2 separate regions of the Homo sapiens genome follow, and region 1 is linked to region 2. Evidence: fine-mapped expression QTL. Tissue or cell type: whole blood. Region 2 holds a variant in brackets; the other region holds the start of a gene. All regions are shown on one strand. Distances are between the middles of the regions.

The links. PIP is the estimated chance that this variant, and not a neighbour inherited with it, causes the effect.
Region 1: it holds the start of ZNF787, and the variant in region 2 is fine-mapped to the expression of ZNF787 in whole blood (INTERVAL, PIP above 0.99).

What each region holds. Positions count from the first base shown.
Region 1 is chr19:56,117,543-56,125,646 of GRCh38, reverse strand. It overlaps ZNF787 (zinc finger protein 787), which reads left to right and starts at 4,352. Exons shown (of 3, transcript NM_001002836.4): 1 at 4,352-4,475. LOC124904772 (a long non-coding RNA gene) reads right to left here and starts at 4,037. Exons shown (of 2, transcript XR_007067348.1): 1 at 3,715-4,037; 2 at 1,102-2,127. RefSeq lists silencers at 3,856-4,225, 4,316-4,435, 4,446-4,525, 4,816-5,135, 5,216-5,265 and enhancers at 3,870-4,585, 5,013-5,307, 7,543-7,712, 7,452-8,104.
Region 2 is chr19:56,083,727-56,091,830 of GRCh38, reverse strand. ZNF787 (zinc finger protein 787) reads left to right here. Exons shown (of 3, transcript NM_001002836.4): 3 at 2,739-4,465. The coding sequence ends at 3,808. Among named protein-coding and RNA genes, the nearest start is that of LINC01864, 21 kb to the right of the region's middle. RefSeq lists enhancers at 1-407, 1-612, 742-911, 4,884-5,483, 5,819-6,318 and 1 more. The variant GAATTTTCTTTTAA/A (reference allele first, on the strand shown) is at 4,245.

The DNA.
Region 1 (8,104 bases), 34 kb before region 2:
GCTTCATTTTCTCCTCCTGCAGACTGGCTTCCTCCACACGGTGGGAAGCAAGACTGCCTTGAGCTTTCCAGCCTCTCACATCCCGGCATCTATGCCAGAGAGGGACTCTCCAAAGAGAAGGATCCAGAGAAAGCCACTGATGGGCCAACTTGGGTGAAATGATGCTGTTATAGCCATTTGCAATTCTCTCCGTACTCACCATTGCCCCCTAACCCCAATTTTATTCAGACTCGAGGCTGTAAATTCCATCTAGATGCTGATGCACCCCTGAAAGGGAGCTTTACCATTTTTACTGCCTGGCATCTGAAAACTCTGTATTAGGGAAGGGTGAAGCTGCTGTAATAAAGAAACGCACACATTGTAATGGCACATCACGTTAGAAGGGTACTTTTTCCTCTAAACACATTTCAAATTGTAGCTATATATAACATAAAATTTAACGTCTTAACTATTTTTGTGTGTGTCTGGGAGGGACGGAGTTTCACTCTTGTTGCCCAGGCTGGAGTGCAGTGGCCTGATCTCGGCTCACTGCAAACTCTGCGTTCCGAGTTCAAGCGATTCTCCTGCCTCAGCCTCCCGAGTAGCTGGGATTACAGGCATGCACCACCACGCCCGGCTAATTTTTGTATTTTTAGTAGAAACAGGGTTTCACCATGTTGGCCAGACTGGTCTTGACCTACTGACCTCAGCCAGGAGGCCTTGGCCTCCCAAAGTGCAGGGATTACAGGCATGAGCTACCTCGCCTGGCTACGTCTTAACTATTTGTAACTGTGCAGTTCAGTAGTGTTAAACCTATTGACGTCTTGTGCACCCATCACCCCCATCCATTTCCAGAACTCTTTTCATCTTGCAAAACCGAAACTCTGTCTCCAATAAACACTAACACCCCATTCCCCTCCCCCCAGCCCCTGGCACCCCCCATTCTACTTCCTGTCTCTATGAATTTGACTTCTCTAGGTCCCTCATATAAGTGGAATCATAAAGTATGTGTTCTTGTGTGACTGGCTTGCTTCTCTTAGCATAATGTCCTCAAGGTTCATCCATGTTGTAGCCTGTGTCAGAATTTTCTCTCTTTTTAAGGCTAAAAAATATTCCATTGTATTTATTTATTTATTTTTATTTTTTGAGACGGAGTCTGGCTCTGTTTACCAGGCTGCAGTGCAGTGGCATGATCTTGGCTCAATGCAGCCTGCGCCTCTGGGTTCAAGTGATTCTCCTGCCTCAGCCTCCCAAGTAGCTGGGACTACAGGCGCCCGCCACCACGCCTGGCTAATTTTTTGTATTTTTAGTAGAGACAGGGTTTCACTATGTTGGCCAGGCTGGTTTCAAACTCTTGACCTCAGGTGATTCGCCCGCCTTGGCCTCCCAAAGTGCTGGGATTACAGATGTGAGCCACCGCGTCTGGTCTATTCCATTGCATTTATGTGCCACATTTTGTTTATTCGCTCATCTGTCAATGGACACTGGGTTGCTTCCACCTCTTGGCTATTGTGAATAATGCTGCTATGAGCATTGGGTGTACAAGTTAGATGTGTATTTCTTGATCATGTAGCAATCTAGGATAGATGTTAGGTGACAGGATGTATTTCCACAAGGTGGTCATTCAGGGACCCAGGTTTCTTGGGGCTCCCCTCTTTCTTTAGGGCCTTGAAAGAGCAGGAAGCAGGCAGATGTTTCTTTTTTTTTTTTGAGATGGAGTCTCACTCTTTTGCCCATACTGAAGTGCAGTGGTGGGATCTCGGCTCACTGCAACCTTTGCCTCCTAGGTTCAAGCAATTCTCCTGCCTCAGCCTCCGGAGTAGCTGGGATTATAAGCGCCCACCACGCCTGGCTAATTTTTGTACTTTTAGTAGAGATGGAGTTTCGCCATGTTGGCCAGGCTGGTCTCGAACTCCTGGACTCAGCTGATCCTCCCGTCTCGGCCTCCCAAAGTGCTGTGATTATAGGCGTGAGCCACCGTGCCTGGCCAACATACATGTTTCTTAAGAGCATTGGCTCGGAAGAGGCCTGTATCGCTTCCATCCCATCCCATTGGTGAGAACCAATCACAAGGCCACACTTAGATGCCAAGAGGAGTGGAAAACAGAATCCATCGATGGGAAGCAGCATCCCAAGAGTGATTTTGTACTGCGGAAGGGAAGAACAGATGTTAATTGTCAATTAAGCCATGTCGGCTGCAACCCATCCCATGTTTGGGAAACATCCTGGTATTGGTTGGGTTGCCTTAAGGGAGAGACTCAGAATTACCAATGGTTTCAGTGAGTTAGAAAGTGATTTCTCTCACATAAAATCTCAGCTGGCACGGAGCCTCTTTCACGAAGCCATCCAGTGTCTAGCTGGCTCCCTGTGTCTTGTTTCTCCTCCATCCTCAGTGTTGGCTTCCATCTGGTGTGCCAATGAGCTGTTCTCGATCTTGCCGTTGTCAATTTGACCAGCGAAGAAGGGGAATGGGCTGGAGAGGGAGGAGGCTGTCCCTCCCAACAACCAGGTCACTGCAGGACACCCACTGAATGATCTGATTCAGAGGAGCACAAGCACATGACTTTTCTTATAAACAGGTTTCCTCGTGTAGAGTTTGTACCCTAATAATTTGTTTCTATTGCTGTTATGATAGCACTTCACTCTCTTTTTTTTTTTTTTTTTTTTGAGACGGAGTCCCATTCCATCGCCCAGGCAAGAGTGCAGTGGTGCGATCTCAGCTCACTGCAACCTCTGCCTCCCAGGTTCAAGCCATTCTCCTGCCTCAGCCTCCCGAGTAGCTGGGATTACAGGTGTCCGCCACCACGCCCAGCTAATTTTTGTATTTTTAATAGATATGGGGTTTCACTATGTTGGCCAGGGTAGTCTCGAATTCCTGACCTCCTGACGTCTGCCTCTGCCTCCCAAAGTGTTGAGATTTACAGGTGTCAGCCACTGCACCCGGCCACACTTCCTTCTGTTCTAAGATATATTTAAAAATTTACCTTTGTGATATTTCTGAAGGAGGGACACAGATATCCTCCTATTGACACACACAGTTAACACAGCACTGTTCACCCCACCCCATGGAAAGATGTTATTAAATCAATAATATACATCTTATGATTGATGCTCACTGAGCTTTGAGGGTATACAGTGGCCACAACAATAGACTTATATGTAACACTGCTAATAGGTAATAATAACCACCATCATTTTTGTGAACTTACTATGGGCCAGGTATTGAACTAAGCAGCTCTTACACATATTACCTTGCAGGTTATCTTATTTTTTCCCATTCCACAGATGAGAAATTGAGGCTGAGAAAGGTGTTATTCCACCAGTGAATTATAGCTTCTTATCTTTTCTGACTACCAGTGAGGATGATAACAATTATAAGCGATAAGTCATCTGCCACTTAGGTGAGAGTCAGCCAAGTACAGAACAGAGGAAGGACCAGAAGGACCAGCCTACAAGGACACTATGGTTTGGACAATTATTTTAAAATATGTGTTTTTTGCAAGAATACCAACAGTAACAGCTAACACCCAGTGCGTCCTTACTAGGTGCCTACCTAACGCGGGGGAAGTAGTGGATTCTCAGGGCTATGACACGAGGCAGTGTGTACAGTCAAGGGTTAAATACACGAATTTAGAGCCAAACTCCATGGGTTCGGGCCGAGGCTCTGGCATTCCGGGTGTGTGACTTTTGGTAGGTGATTTGACTCCTCACCTGCAACATAGGGATAGGACCTACCATGAGGCCCTAGTTAGGACTAGGACCTAGTGCGTGTGAAGCACTTGGAGGCGCACAATGTATTTTCATCACTTCAGAAAGGAGGAAACTGAGGCCATGGCACCTGAAGCGCAGCACTCTCTGTCCAGTAACTAAGGAACCCGGGGTCTCTGTCCAGTAACTAAGGCACCTGGACTCGGGCCACTGGGAGGTGCAGCGGCAGAGAAGGGGTTACCATGATAGAGACGGTAGGAGGACCCGGGGTGGCACGAGCGTCCCTCTCCACCACTTCACTCTCCTCACGGCGGGCCCGGGGACCCGGCCGCGCAGGCGCGAGGAGCCCGGGTTGTCGGGGGGGCACCGCCCTAGACACCCGGAAGTCTCCGCCTAACGGGCCCAGCCCGCACCTCCTGTCCGGGAAGGGGGCGGGGCCGAAGCCCCTCGGCGCGGGGCGCCATAGAGCATGGACGGAGGACCTGCGTCCTAGACACTTCCGGAAGTGGCTCCCTCAGGCGCCCGCCGGGCACCACAGAGCTGGGGGCGGTGGCCGGGATAGCGGGCTCGCCTTCCTAGAGCGGCGAGGACAGGGTGGCGGCCCGGGGGGCAGGGAGTAGGGAGAAGGGGGGGAGCGGCGCGGGCGGAAGCGGCCGGGAAGGTCACTTCCGGCCTGGGCGCCCGTCCCCCTGACCCCAGGGTCTGAGTCGCCGCTGCCGCCGCTGCCACCATCCGCGAGGCAGGAGAGAGGAGGAGGAGTGCGGCGCGGCGGCCCCGGGACCAAGGAGGTGAGGGGTGGGGGCGGGGGCCGTGCGCTGGGGGCCAGGTGGGCGCGCGCTTCGGGAAGCTGGGCTTGGGCTGGGGGTGGGTGGGGAGACTGGAGGGCGAGCGCGACTGGGCGGCGGGCGCGCGTGCGCGCTGCTGGGGGGGCGTGAGTGGGCGCGCGGCCGGGGTGACGCGGGCGGGGGGAGTGCGCGTGCGCGCCGAAGAGCTGTGGGAGGGGACGCGCGCCCGGGCGGCCCGCGGGCGGCGAGCGGGGCTGGAGGGGGGGTGCGCGTGCGCGGGTCCGGGTCCAGGGCGCGCGCGTGCGCGTGGCGGGGGCAGGAGCGGGGGCCTCGGTGGGGGTCCCTCTGCTGCGGGCCGTCGGGGGTGGGGCCGCTGTCCGTCCCCCCGAAGTTCCAACTCCGCCGGTCGTGGCCGGAAGTGGTGGCGACTTCGGGGGGAAGTTGAGGCCCAGGTGGGGGAAGGGGCCGCGCGGTTGGGCTGGCCTGGCCGGATACCGCGGCCCCGAGGGCACGGTCTCAGCCCTCGGCCCCCCCAGCCCTTCCTTCCCCTTTTCGAGTCAGCCCGGGTCCCGTTGCTGCCCCGGGCGGGCTGCGCGTGGCCTTTGATCAGGCGGGTAATTACGGGGATTCTGGCCGGCAGGAGGCCCATTCATTCGTCCTTGCTCGGCAGGCGGGGAGGAAGCGCGTCCCCAGCGGGGGAAGTGACTGGGCCAAGGTCAGCCACCGCGTGGCCCACGGGGCAGGGCGAAGGCGGGGACTGGATCGGGTGGCGACTCCTGAGGCCTCCCTCCCCTGTGCCGAGTGGATCAGAGTGGAGCCCCGCCCTCCTGACACCCCACCCCGACCCCCAGTCCAGGGAGCTGACCCCAATTCATGTGGATGAGTGCTCTGGGACCTGCAGAGTCGCACAGAAAAGTGACCCACAGACACAGAAGGCAGGAGTGAGTGGAGGCAGAAGTTTTTCCAGTGCCAGGCCCTGTGCCGGGCACTAGAGACAGGGAGCAGGGAGATGAACAAGGGCTTGGAGTCTGGGTGGAAGGCAGAGACTGAGACCCGGGCGACAGAGTCGCCATCCAAGGTGACCAGACCCCTGATGGAGAGGTCTGGGGGCTGTGGGAGCCAGGGAAGGCATTTTGACCCAGCCCAGTCCGGGGGATGGTCAGGGCTTTAGGGAAGGAATGGCTTGGTCTGCTCTTTGCGGTGTCCTGCTCCCAGGTCCCATGTTGCGCAGTGCTTAGAACCCATCTGGGGATCCGATTGACCCCAGCGCCGGGAAGCACAGTTGCGTTGATCCTGGCTTAGCTCCTCTGAAGACCGTAAGCCTCTTTGGCTAAACGCTGCTGACATTCACCTGCCTGCCTCTGCGCAGTCCCTGTGGTCCTCCGGCCACGCACGGCCTCAGAGAACATCCAGATCAGATTCCTGCTTGCTTATCTCATGTCTTATCCATCCATCCGGGCACCCGGCCTGGCCCCTCCCTGGTGCACTGCCAGAGTGTGTGCAGGCACTGGGTTGTATTCCCCAAGAGCTCTGGGACTGGGCAGGCCTGGGTTCAAGTCCCAGCCCCACCACTCACCTTCGTGGCCTTAGACGAGTAACTTCAGTGCCTTACTTTCCACCAGGACAGAGTGGGAGTGGTAATAATAGTATTGACCTCAGCGGGAAGGCTCTTAATGCTTTCATTTTAGAGCCAGAGCAGACCTCAACAGATGGGTGTAAAGTAAATGGAAAGGGCTCTGGAGCCAGGCCCTTTCCTGGGCCTTGGCCTTGGCACTGTCTCTTCCACTTCTGTGACCTTGGACATGTCACTTCCCTTTTCCCAGGTTCAATTTCCCTTCAGTTGTCTAAAAACGAGAGCAAGTTCACAATTCCCTGAGTAAATGTAATCCATCCAGGCGGCTGCACAGGCCAGGCCCTGTGCTGGGCATGAGGTCACACATGGTCTTGGCACAGCACTGTCCTGTGAGGGCCCAGATGAGGTGCCTGGCCCAGCCTGGGTGAAGAGAGGGATCTCAAGGCCCTTCTGTGCAAGCACAAGGTAGAGTGGTGCTCCGTGCTGGGCAGCCTGGCAGGAATCATACAGTCCCTGTCCCAGAGCAGCTGAGACCCATTCACACTGGGCAGAGGGGTGGGGAGATTTGCCAGAGTGCTCCCGGGAGCTCTGACCTTGAGGGAGGGGTGTGTGGTGCAGGGGAGGTATTGTGTCTTGAAAGATAGAGAGGAAGGATTGGCTACCAGGAACCTGGTACTTAAGGGAGGATGACAGTGGGCTCTGGGCAGGGAATGGCAGGGGTCACAGCTCAAGGCCACCAGCAACTGCCTGGCTGCCCTGGGAGGTCTTTTGTTACTAGGCATACACAGCTCTCAGGACACCCATCCTCAGACATGTTTCACAGGCCTTTCCAAACCTCGTTCGTGTGTCCTCTGGTGCATCCTGAGGCCTCCAGCCTAGTGAGGACTGTGCCAGGTGCTGGGGCCTCTGTGGTGTGAGAAACTGCAGATTCGACAACACTTGCTGGTGCACACTTTGCAGGAACCTGGCCCAGTGCCTGGTCCTCACTGTCCTAAATTCTCAAGGCTCTGGGATGGAGGTGGTCACCTCCATTTTAGGGGTATGGGATGGAGGCTCTGGATGGCACTTGTTAGCCCAAGGCCCCCAGCAGCTTCAGAACCTGTGTCTACTGCGATTCCAGAGCCCAGACCCTTGACCATCACAACCGCCCCCTTCCGCCCCCAGGTTGGGGTCTAGGGGGACAAAGGCTGTTCCGAAGTCCTCTAGGTGTTAGTCATTGGCTTGGAGACGCTGGACTCCCTGCCTAGTGGGGTGTACTGTCCACGAGGACTCCTACACGCAGGGCTGCTGGCTGGTTCAGGGGAACCCCAGCATAGTGGGAGAAGCACAAGTGGCTCGGAAGTTGAGTGCTGAGATCCATGCAACCCCCAAGGAGGCCTCACTCACCCAGCATCAGGGAGAGCAAGGCAGGTGTGGAGTTCGAGCAGTCACACCTCCAGTGTCAGTGGCCCTGTCCCAGGAGCCCAGAGCTGTCACCTTACAGCTGCAGAGAAACCAGCCCAAGCTCTGAGCCCAGGTGGGGCGGCCCCAGGCCTGTCTGTTCCTGCAAGGGACCTGGCAACTTGAGGCTGTTTTTCGTGACGTTTTCCTGGTTCCGTCTCTGCCGTGGCCTGAGCCTTCTCCCTTTGGGCTCACAGAGTGTGGACGTCTCTCTTGTGCTAAATGGGGGTCCCATCTGGCCCCCCTGTTTCGAGGCCTTGCAGTGGATAGTGTTGGGACCCAGAGATGCATCAGAAGTGGTCCTTGCCTCAGCCCAGGGTCCAGCCAGTCAGAGCCATGGATTCCTGAGGCTGCTGTGTGCAGGGTCTTTGCTGGAAATAGCCCCGCCCTCAAGTGCACAGTCTGCTGGATGCACTGTGGGACTGATGGGGACCTATAGTAGGTGTCGCAGAGGTGAATAAGACACGGAGTAAGACACAGATCCCCCTGCGGGACACAGGACCATCCTCAATGGTGGACGTTAAAGGGGACAAATGCCGTTGTCCAAGAGTTAGAAGGAAGCAAGCTGTCTTTGGCAGCTGGCCGACTCAGGTGTGGCTCCAGCCTCCTACGTTGTGGC
Region 2 (8,104 bases):
GCCTGTGAAGCGCGGTTTCCTGGGCCTTACTGAGATGCAGCACGGGAAGGTTTGCGCAGAGCCCAGGAATCTGCAAGATGTAAAAGAGCCCTGCCTTTTAAGTAATTAAACCCTGTCCATTTAACAGTGCTTAACTCGTACTTAGAAAAAGTAGTGCAGAGATGCCTGTAGAGAAGCCAGATCGCCTACGGCCTAAAGCAGAAAACAGCTCCCACCTCCTGCCTTCCCCACTCCCAGTTTGCCTCTAGAGGAAGGAGCCCCTCCATGCACTCTTTGGGGTTCTCCCTGGTTCTAGGTAAAGAGCTCATGAAATTGCTTTGATAGTTGCAAATCTAATGGGAGGTGAGGACATGGCTCCCACATCCTCTCCCCACTCTCCACTCACTGCGCTCTCCACGTACTGCACACCCGCCCCAGTGCCCCTGTCTTAGCTGCCACTGTGTCACAAGTTTTGTGTTCAGAATTCATGTCGTCATGAATAAATGCTATTCATAGCTGAGTCACAGGGAGCATTGCTACACTTTCTTTCTTCACAGCTTCGAAAACAAAGCAGTTATTTTAATTAAAGGCGTAGAAGCACTTGTAAGGTTCAGATAGTATGGCTCGGTTTACGGTGACAACAAATCTCTTTCCTGCCCGTCCCTTTCTGTCCCCTTCAGTCACACTGCCCCGGGGCAAATAGCTTCTGATGTTTGTTTTTAATTCTCTCTACATCTTTAAGTAATGTGCTTATAACTTACAACATTTTTTGATTTATGTTGACAACGCAGTGGGCTCCATGCCATCTCTCCAGAAGGCTCCCCCCTTCCTGACTTCACCTGGAGTGTTTTCTTCTGCCGCAGGTTCAAGAGCCATATTCGAATACTCTCTGCCTTGGAATAGTGATTCTCACACTGGAGCTGGCATCAGAATCACCTGGGGGGCTTGCTGAAGCACAGGCCCGGCCCGGCACTTTCTCATACAGTGCGTCTGGAGGGAGGCCTGAGCATAAGCGTTTTTGTTTTGTTTTGAGATGGAGTCTTGCTCTGTCGCCCAGGCTGGAATGCAGTGGTGTGATCTCAGCTCACTGCAACCTCTGCCTCCCGGGTTCAAGTCATTCTCCTGCCTCAGCCTTCCAAGTAGCTGGGACTACAGGCATGCGCCACCACGCCCGGCTAATTTTTGTGTTTTTAGTAGAGATGGGGTTTTGCCATGTTGGCCAGGATAGTCTTGAACTCCTGACCTCAAGTGATCTGCCCACCTCGGCCTCCTAAAGTGCTGGGATTACAGGCGTGAGCCACCGCTCCGGGCAGTGCATAAATGTTTTTAATATGTTCTCTGTGGCGCCGATGCTACTGGTCGCAGGATCCCACTTTGTGGAGCACTCCCTTAGCGTGTAGGGTGTGCTGCCTGTGGGTGGGGGATTTAGCGGTGGGCGGCCGCAGTTAGTGGTAGATGGCTGTTTCTTGGACCCAGTCTACTAATGCGCTTCTGGGCATTGCCACTTTGTAGTCGTGTAGCTGTGGGCTGTGACTCGACTCCCTAGTGCCTCAGTTTCTCCCTTGTAAAGGCTCAGTTTTGTGCTCCCAGCTTATGAGGACCTGACGCTGAAGTGTGTAGCGCAGGGGGGCGTCATGGCCCTTCCTTGCGTGTTTGCCAGCGTGGCATCTGGGAGGGTGTTTGGGCTCTGTGTGCTGGGCACCACCGTGCCAGGTGTTGGGATAGAGACTTAGGAGCTTACAGTCTAGTAAGGTCAGGAGTGAGAACGTTGTAATTGTGATTCATGGCTTTGAAAAAACCCTGTGGGGTGCACCTGGGGTGTCCACGGGGGTCAGAGATGCACTTGCTGAGGCCCTCCCACCTGATTCTGTTGCTCTGGACCAGGCCCCAAGGGAGAGCAAATGTAGAAGCTGCACACGGACCCTTCTCAGGAGTGAATGAGCTGGGGAGGAGGCAAGCCCATCCCTCCCGGGAGAGCCCCCAGGGGCAGGCCTGGTGCAGAAGTGTGAAAGGCCTCGTTGACTGCTGGAAGGGCGTCCTCAGTGTAAAGATGTGCAGGCAAAGCCCTGTGTGCCCGAATTGTCCTCACTGAGCAGACAGGAGCCCCCACACCAGGGGCTGACCATAGCCTCTGTAATGGAGGTGGCGTTGAGCCAGGTTTTACTCCCAGGTTCGGAGGTGGGGCTTTCATGCTCATCTCCAATCCCATTACCTGTCTGCAGCCAGGATTGTCTTCCTGGAGCCCGAATGTGACACCATCGCTCCCTGGCGGGCACGTCTTCAGGGTGCCAAACCCACTCCCTGGCTCAGGACCAGGTGTCCAGGGCTGCATTCAAGCCCTGCGGCCCCTCTGCCTAGTGGAACCTTTGCCCGTGAGCCTTCCTCATCCTCTGCCCCCGGCGTCCAGGCTGGTGTTTTGGGTTTCGGGGTCCTTTTCTGGGAGCCTTCCGTGGATCCCGCCCCTCGCCCATGCCTCTTATGTTGCCTGGTTGTTTACAGACCAGGCCTTCTGTGTCTGGGGCATTGTTCTAGAGGTTGGGGGTAAACTGAGGGTCTTAACTCACACAGAGCTGAGGTCTTAGCTGGGGAGAGGGGTAATAAATACTTAGTAAAATGCAGGGAGTGATGCACACTCTGAGGACACCAGGGCAGGTCCTGCGCCAGGGGGAGCGAGGCACCCGAGGCCAGCGTAGCAGCCAAGGCAGGCGTGGAGCCCTTGCCTCTCTTGACTCACCTCCCCCTACCCTCTTGCTTTCCAGTGGACATCCTCATCATGGATGATGACGACGTCCCCAGCTGGCCTCCCACCAAGCTGTCCCCGCCCCAGTCTGCGCCCCCAGCCGGCCCGCCTCCCCGGCCGCGGCCGCCCGCCCCCTACATCTGCAACGAGTGTGGCAAGAGCTTTAGCCACTGGTCCAAGCTGACGCGGCACCAGCGCACGCACACCGGCGAGCGGCCCAACGCCTGCGCCGACTGCGGCAAGACCTTCTCGCAGAGCTCGCACCTGGTGCAGCACCGGCGCATCCACACGGGCGAGAAGCCCTACGCCTGCTTGGAGTGCGGCAAGCGCTTCAGCTGGAGCTCCAACCTCATGCAGCACCAGCGCATCCACACGGGCGAGAAGCCCTACACCTGCCCCGACTGCGGCCGCAGCTTCACTCAGAGCAAGAGCCTGGCCAAGCACCGGCGCTCGCACAGCGGCCTCAAGCCCTTCGTGTGCCCGCGCTGCGGCCGCGGCTTCAGCCAGCCCAAGAGCCTCGCGCGTCACCTGCGGCTGCACCCGGAGCTGTCGGGGCCTGGCGTGGCGGCCAAGGTGCTGGCGGCTAGCGTCCGGCGGGCCAAGGGGCCCGAAGAGGCGGTGGCGGCGGACGGCGAGATCGCCATCCCCGTGGGCGATGGCGAGGGCATCATCGTGGTGGGCGCGCCGGGCGAGGGGGCCGCGGCCGCGGCAGCCATGGCGGGCGCGGGGGCAAAGGCCGCGGGGCCCCGGTCGCGGCGCGCCCCGGCCCCCAAGCCGTACGTGTGTCTGGAGTGCGGGAAGGGCTTCGGGCACGGGGCCGGGCTCCTGGCGCACCAGCGGGCCCAGCACGGGGACGGGCTCGGGGCGGCGGGGGGCGAGGAGCCGGCCCACATCTGCGTGGAGTGCGGGGAGGGCTTCGTGCAGGGCGCCGCGCTCCGGAGACACAAGAAGATCCACGCGGTGGGCGCGCCCTCGGTCTGCAGCAGCTGCGGACAGAGCTACTACCGCGCGGGCGGGGAGGAGGAGGACGACGACGACGAGGCCGCGGGCGGGCGGTGCCCCGAGTGCCGCGGTGGGGAGGGCCGGTAGGGGAGGGGCCCGGGGGGGGGGGCGGGCAGGGCCCCTCGGGCTTGGCGGGAGCGACGACGTGCAAGACCAAGAGACCCAGGGAGAAGCGGACGGGGTGCGATGGACCCCGCGGCATCCCCGGCTCCCCGCCCTCCTCTGTCCCTGCGCCGTCCGTGGGGGGGCACTGGGGCGTATTAGGGCCCGTTCACTTCTCCGCCTCGAGACTCTGCCCCCTCAGCCTGGCCCGCCCTTCCTAAGTTATCGGCCTGCGAGCCGGAGAGACAATGGAGAGAACTGCAGAGGCCGAGTGGCGACCAGGCCCCAAGCGGAAGGCCATTTTCCCTGCTCTTCCTCAGTTGTCCGGGGCGGGGGTGGGGGGTGCTGCGAGGAATGGAGAAACCAGGCCCTTTAGAGGATCCCAGAGAGGGAAGAGAACCAGGGGCCCTTTTCTCTTTTA[GAATTTTCTTTTAA/A]TCAGCCCACCTTTTGACTCCCCGCCCGCCCCAATCCATTATTTTTTTCTGCCTTCCGGGTCCCATCCTTAGAGCTCGAGTCGTTCCTTCCCCTCCTGGATTCCGGGTAGCAGAGGCAGCGCCGCAGGAGGCGGGTGCCCGTTTGTCCCAGGCCTGGGCGTGGTGGAGGAAGGGGTGCTGGAACAATAAACGGCACTATCCAAATGTCCCCCTCTGCGTGGTTCTTGAGTCCGGGAGGGAGAAGGGCAAGAGGGGTAAACGGAGGCTCTCGCCGGGGCATCAGCAGAGCGTCAGCCGCGCCCCGGGAGTGGCCCGTTGGGTCGCCCGCGGAGGGCTCTAGGCAGGGGGGCCTGTCCGCGGATATCCTCACTATGGTGCGGGCACTCACAGGGCCTGGGAGCTGCTTGTAGATGGGGCAGGGCGGACTGGTCAGGGCCAGGCCTGCCCGCTGCAGGGGAAGGAGCCCCCACGGCTTCTACCACCCTCTCACAGGGGCGGCTGGCTTCCTCCACTCCTATCGTGTGGCCCCCGCCCCTAACCCCAAAAGCACCCTCCTCCTGCCTCCAGCTTCTGGGGGAGACTCTGACTGCAAAGGGCGCACGTCCCCCTACCTGGGTCGTTCACGGGGCTGGTCCCGTGGTTGCGGCTCCCTGCGAAGGAGGCTGGGAGATGAGGTCCCGGCGGCTGCCGCTCCGGGGACAGGACCCCCCGCCCCCTACGGGAGGAGGATGGTGCGCTCAGCTGTCTCTGCTGCAGGGGCCAGGCAGACGAGCCAGCCAGGGGCTGGGGGAGAGGGCGGGTATGCCACAGTCCAGCCGAGCGCTTAGGGCATTTCAGGCAGTGCGCGTGCCCGAGGGGCTTGGTCCGGTAGAGCCGCTGCAGCCGCCCTGCCAGGTGAGCGCTGTTGTTCATGATCAGAAGGGGGCTCGACCATGGCGACTGGTTTCCTGGACCCACAGCCCAGGTCCTGAGGACCCATGTTCCTGGGGCCTTGGGAGGCCGCAGTGAGGGTCCCAAAGGGGTATTTTCAACCTGGCTGAAGGCTGCGATTACTCAGGAGCGATTGGAGGCGGCAAGCTGCAGGCGTCTTTGACTTGGGGGTTTCATAGTAGAGGGGGACTTGAAGGAGAAATTCGGATTTCCAGTTAGAGCCCTTAATCTGCCCTTTCACACCCTGATGTGCTTGAGGAGGGTCCTGGGGCCTCATCTGGAGGCAGGGGGTTTAGAAACCAGGGCCACTGATGGTCTACAGATCCTGGAGGATTTGTTAGAGGACTAGGGAGTGATTGTGGATCAAAAAAGCGTGTTCTCAAGTGGCCAGAGCCTTGCTTAGATAATTGGTATTGCATGTCAGTTTTTGAAATTTCAGGTCACTCGAAAGGAGGGGGTGAACCTTGGCAGTTCAGAGTGGGCTGGGTTAGCAAAGACTGAGGAAGCATTGCTCACTTCTCCTAGGGTCCTTCTGTGGAGCTCTGGCCTTGGGCACTTCTGGAGGCCTGGGAGGATGGGAGGTGCCCTGTCTGGTAGAATTGGCAGCTCGGTGCCCCATAAGTCGGGCACACTGAGTCTCGGGTCAGCCTCTTCTACCTGCTCCAGTATATGGTGGCAGGAGCTGACACCTATAGCAAGAAAGATTCAGGGCAAGTTTCCACCCTGCCCCTTAAGGCTGTGTGACCCTGGGCAAGTGGACTAACCTCTCTGACCCTTGGCTTCCTGCCCTGTGGAAAGGAGAGCTTGCCTGCCTGCCTTGTATGACTGTGTGTGGAGGGGGGAATCCCCAAGCCATGTGTTAACTCACTGGAGCTGCCCTCCCAGGCATGAGCAAAGATGCAGGGGCGAGGAGCCAGGCTCAAATCCCAGCTCTGCACTACTCATCCCACTTTGTAATACAGAACTGAGCGAGCTCACATGACCACCTTGACATCAGCCTGCACCGGACCCAACACCTGACCTGTGCTTTGGTGTCACACGCTGTCCGTTACTGATTCATGCACTCAGGTAGTCATTGCCCACCCCTCACTCACTCATTCTACAAATGTGTTTTGGGCAGCAGCTCCGTGCCCAGTAGGCACGGCGTGGGTCCCAGGTAAAGAAAGGAACATGGGTTCTTGTGGCACTTGCCGTCGGCCCTGTAGTTCACCTGCATTGGAGCTGCTCACCCACGGCAAGGTGAGGCTAGGCGGCCGCTCCATGCTCACAAACCCACCCTGGCAGTGACCGCAGAAGTTCCTTCGGCCCCCATTCCTCTCATGCTCACTTTGGTGGAGGGCACGCCCAGACTCGTTCACGCCCCTTACGGAGTCCAGTCCTCACAAAGGCCCTGTGTGGTTGCCATCATTCCTCGGCTGCTGCTGCTGAAGCTGGTACGAGGAGAGGAAGCAGCCTGCCCAGGCTACTGGTTTGTAAAGTGGTAGAACCTTAATCTGGATCTAAAGTCCTGACACCCATGCCCCCCACCCCCGGCCCCCTGCTGAGTTGATAATCCACTTAATCTTAGGTGTTTATCGGGCACTTCTTTCCTGTGAGGGACTCTGCTAAGCATGGGGGCACAGCAGTGACCTCAACAGGCACAAATCTCTGCTGTCATGGGGGCTGGGAGGGGATACACACAGCTAAGGGCTGAAGGGACAAAAAGAGGCTCTCAGGAGGCAGGAGGTGGAGGAGTCCTGGGCAGGGGGCAGGTGTGACAGGCAATCCCAGGGGGAGTGAGGGCCAGACAGGTGAGTGGAAAGGGACCCTCCACCCAGCTTACTCCCCAGCCTGAAGGCAGTGTTGATCTGGAAATGATTTTATTCCATACAGCCCCGTTTCCCTAAGGGTAGCCTGGAGAGTGTAGGTTCCAGGGAATATTGTTAAGATGTTTGGAGAAAACAGGATCTTGTATTCAAATAACCTGGGAAAATGCTGGATTCAAGTTTTCTTTTTTTTTTTTTTTGAGACGGAGTTTCGCTGTGTCACCCAGGCTGGAGTGCAGTGGTGCAATCTGGACTCACTGCAACCTCTGCCTCCTGGGTTCAAGCAATTCTGTCTCAGCCTCCCAAGTAGCTGGGAATACAGGCACCCAGCACCACACCCGGCTCACTTTTGTATTTTTAGTAGAGATGGGGTTTCACCATATTGGTCAGGCTCATCTTGAACTCCTGACCTCAAGTAGTCCACCCACCTTGGCCTCCCAAAGTGCAGGGATTACAGGTGTGAGCCACTGCACCCTGCCGGATTGAAATTTTCTCATACACAGAACAGTACTTGGCAGGTGGAAGGTGCTGAGCCAAGATTTAGTCGACTGGATGAATTATAAAACTAGCCCCCCACACCCACCCGGCTCAGAACTTTCCACTATGATTCTGTATACCCGGGTGGGGCTGGGGGCCAGGGCAGGGGTAGGTGAAAACATGCAGCATTTTCTGAACTTGTTCTGTCAGAAAACCTTCCATTTATAGAGCATCTTGGGCTGGTGTACTCCAGGCCATCCTTAGAGAAGTGCATGCATGTGAATTGTGTGTGTCTCTGCATGTATGAATGCATGTCTGTGTGGATGGTGCATCTGTATCTTTGTGCATATGTATGTCTGTGCGCATGTGGGTATGTGTGTGTCTGTGGTATACATCCACCCTCCTTCCCCTCATATCTACCACTCAAAGAGGCTGTGGGTGGGGACGGAGTTGCCTCTGGCACCATTGATTTTGCCTCCTCTCCTGCCTTGATGGACAAGTCTATCCAGAAATTCCCTATTTTCTGGCGCCGGTCTTTCAGCACCATGGACAGAGATTCCCCCCCCCCCCCCACCCCACCCCCCACCCCCACCCCCACAGCTGAGTCTGGGATGATGGAGCTCAGTTTAATCCAT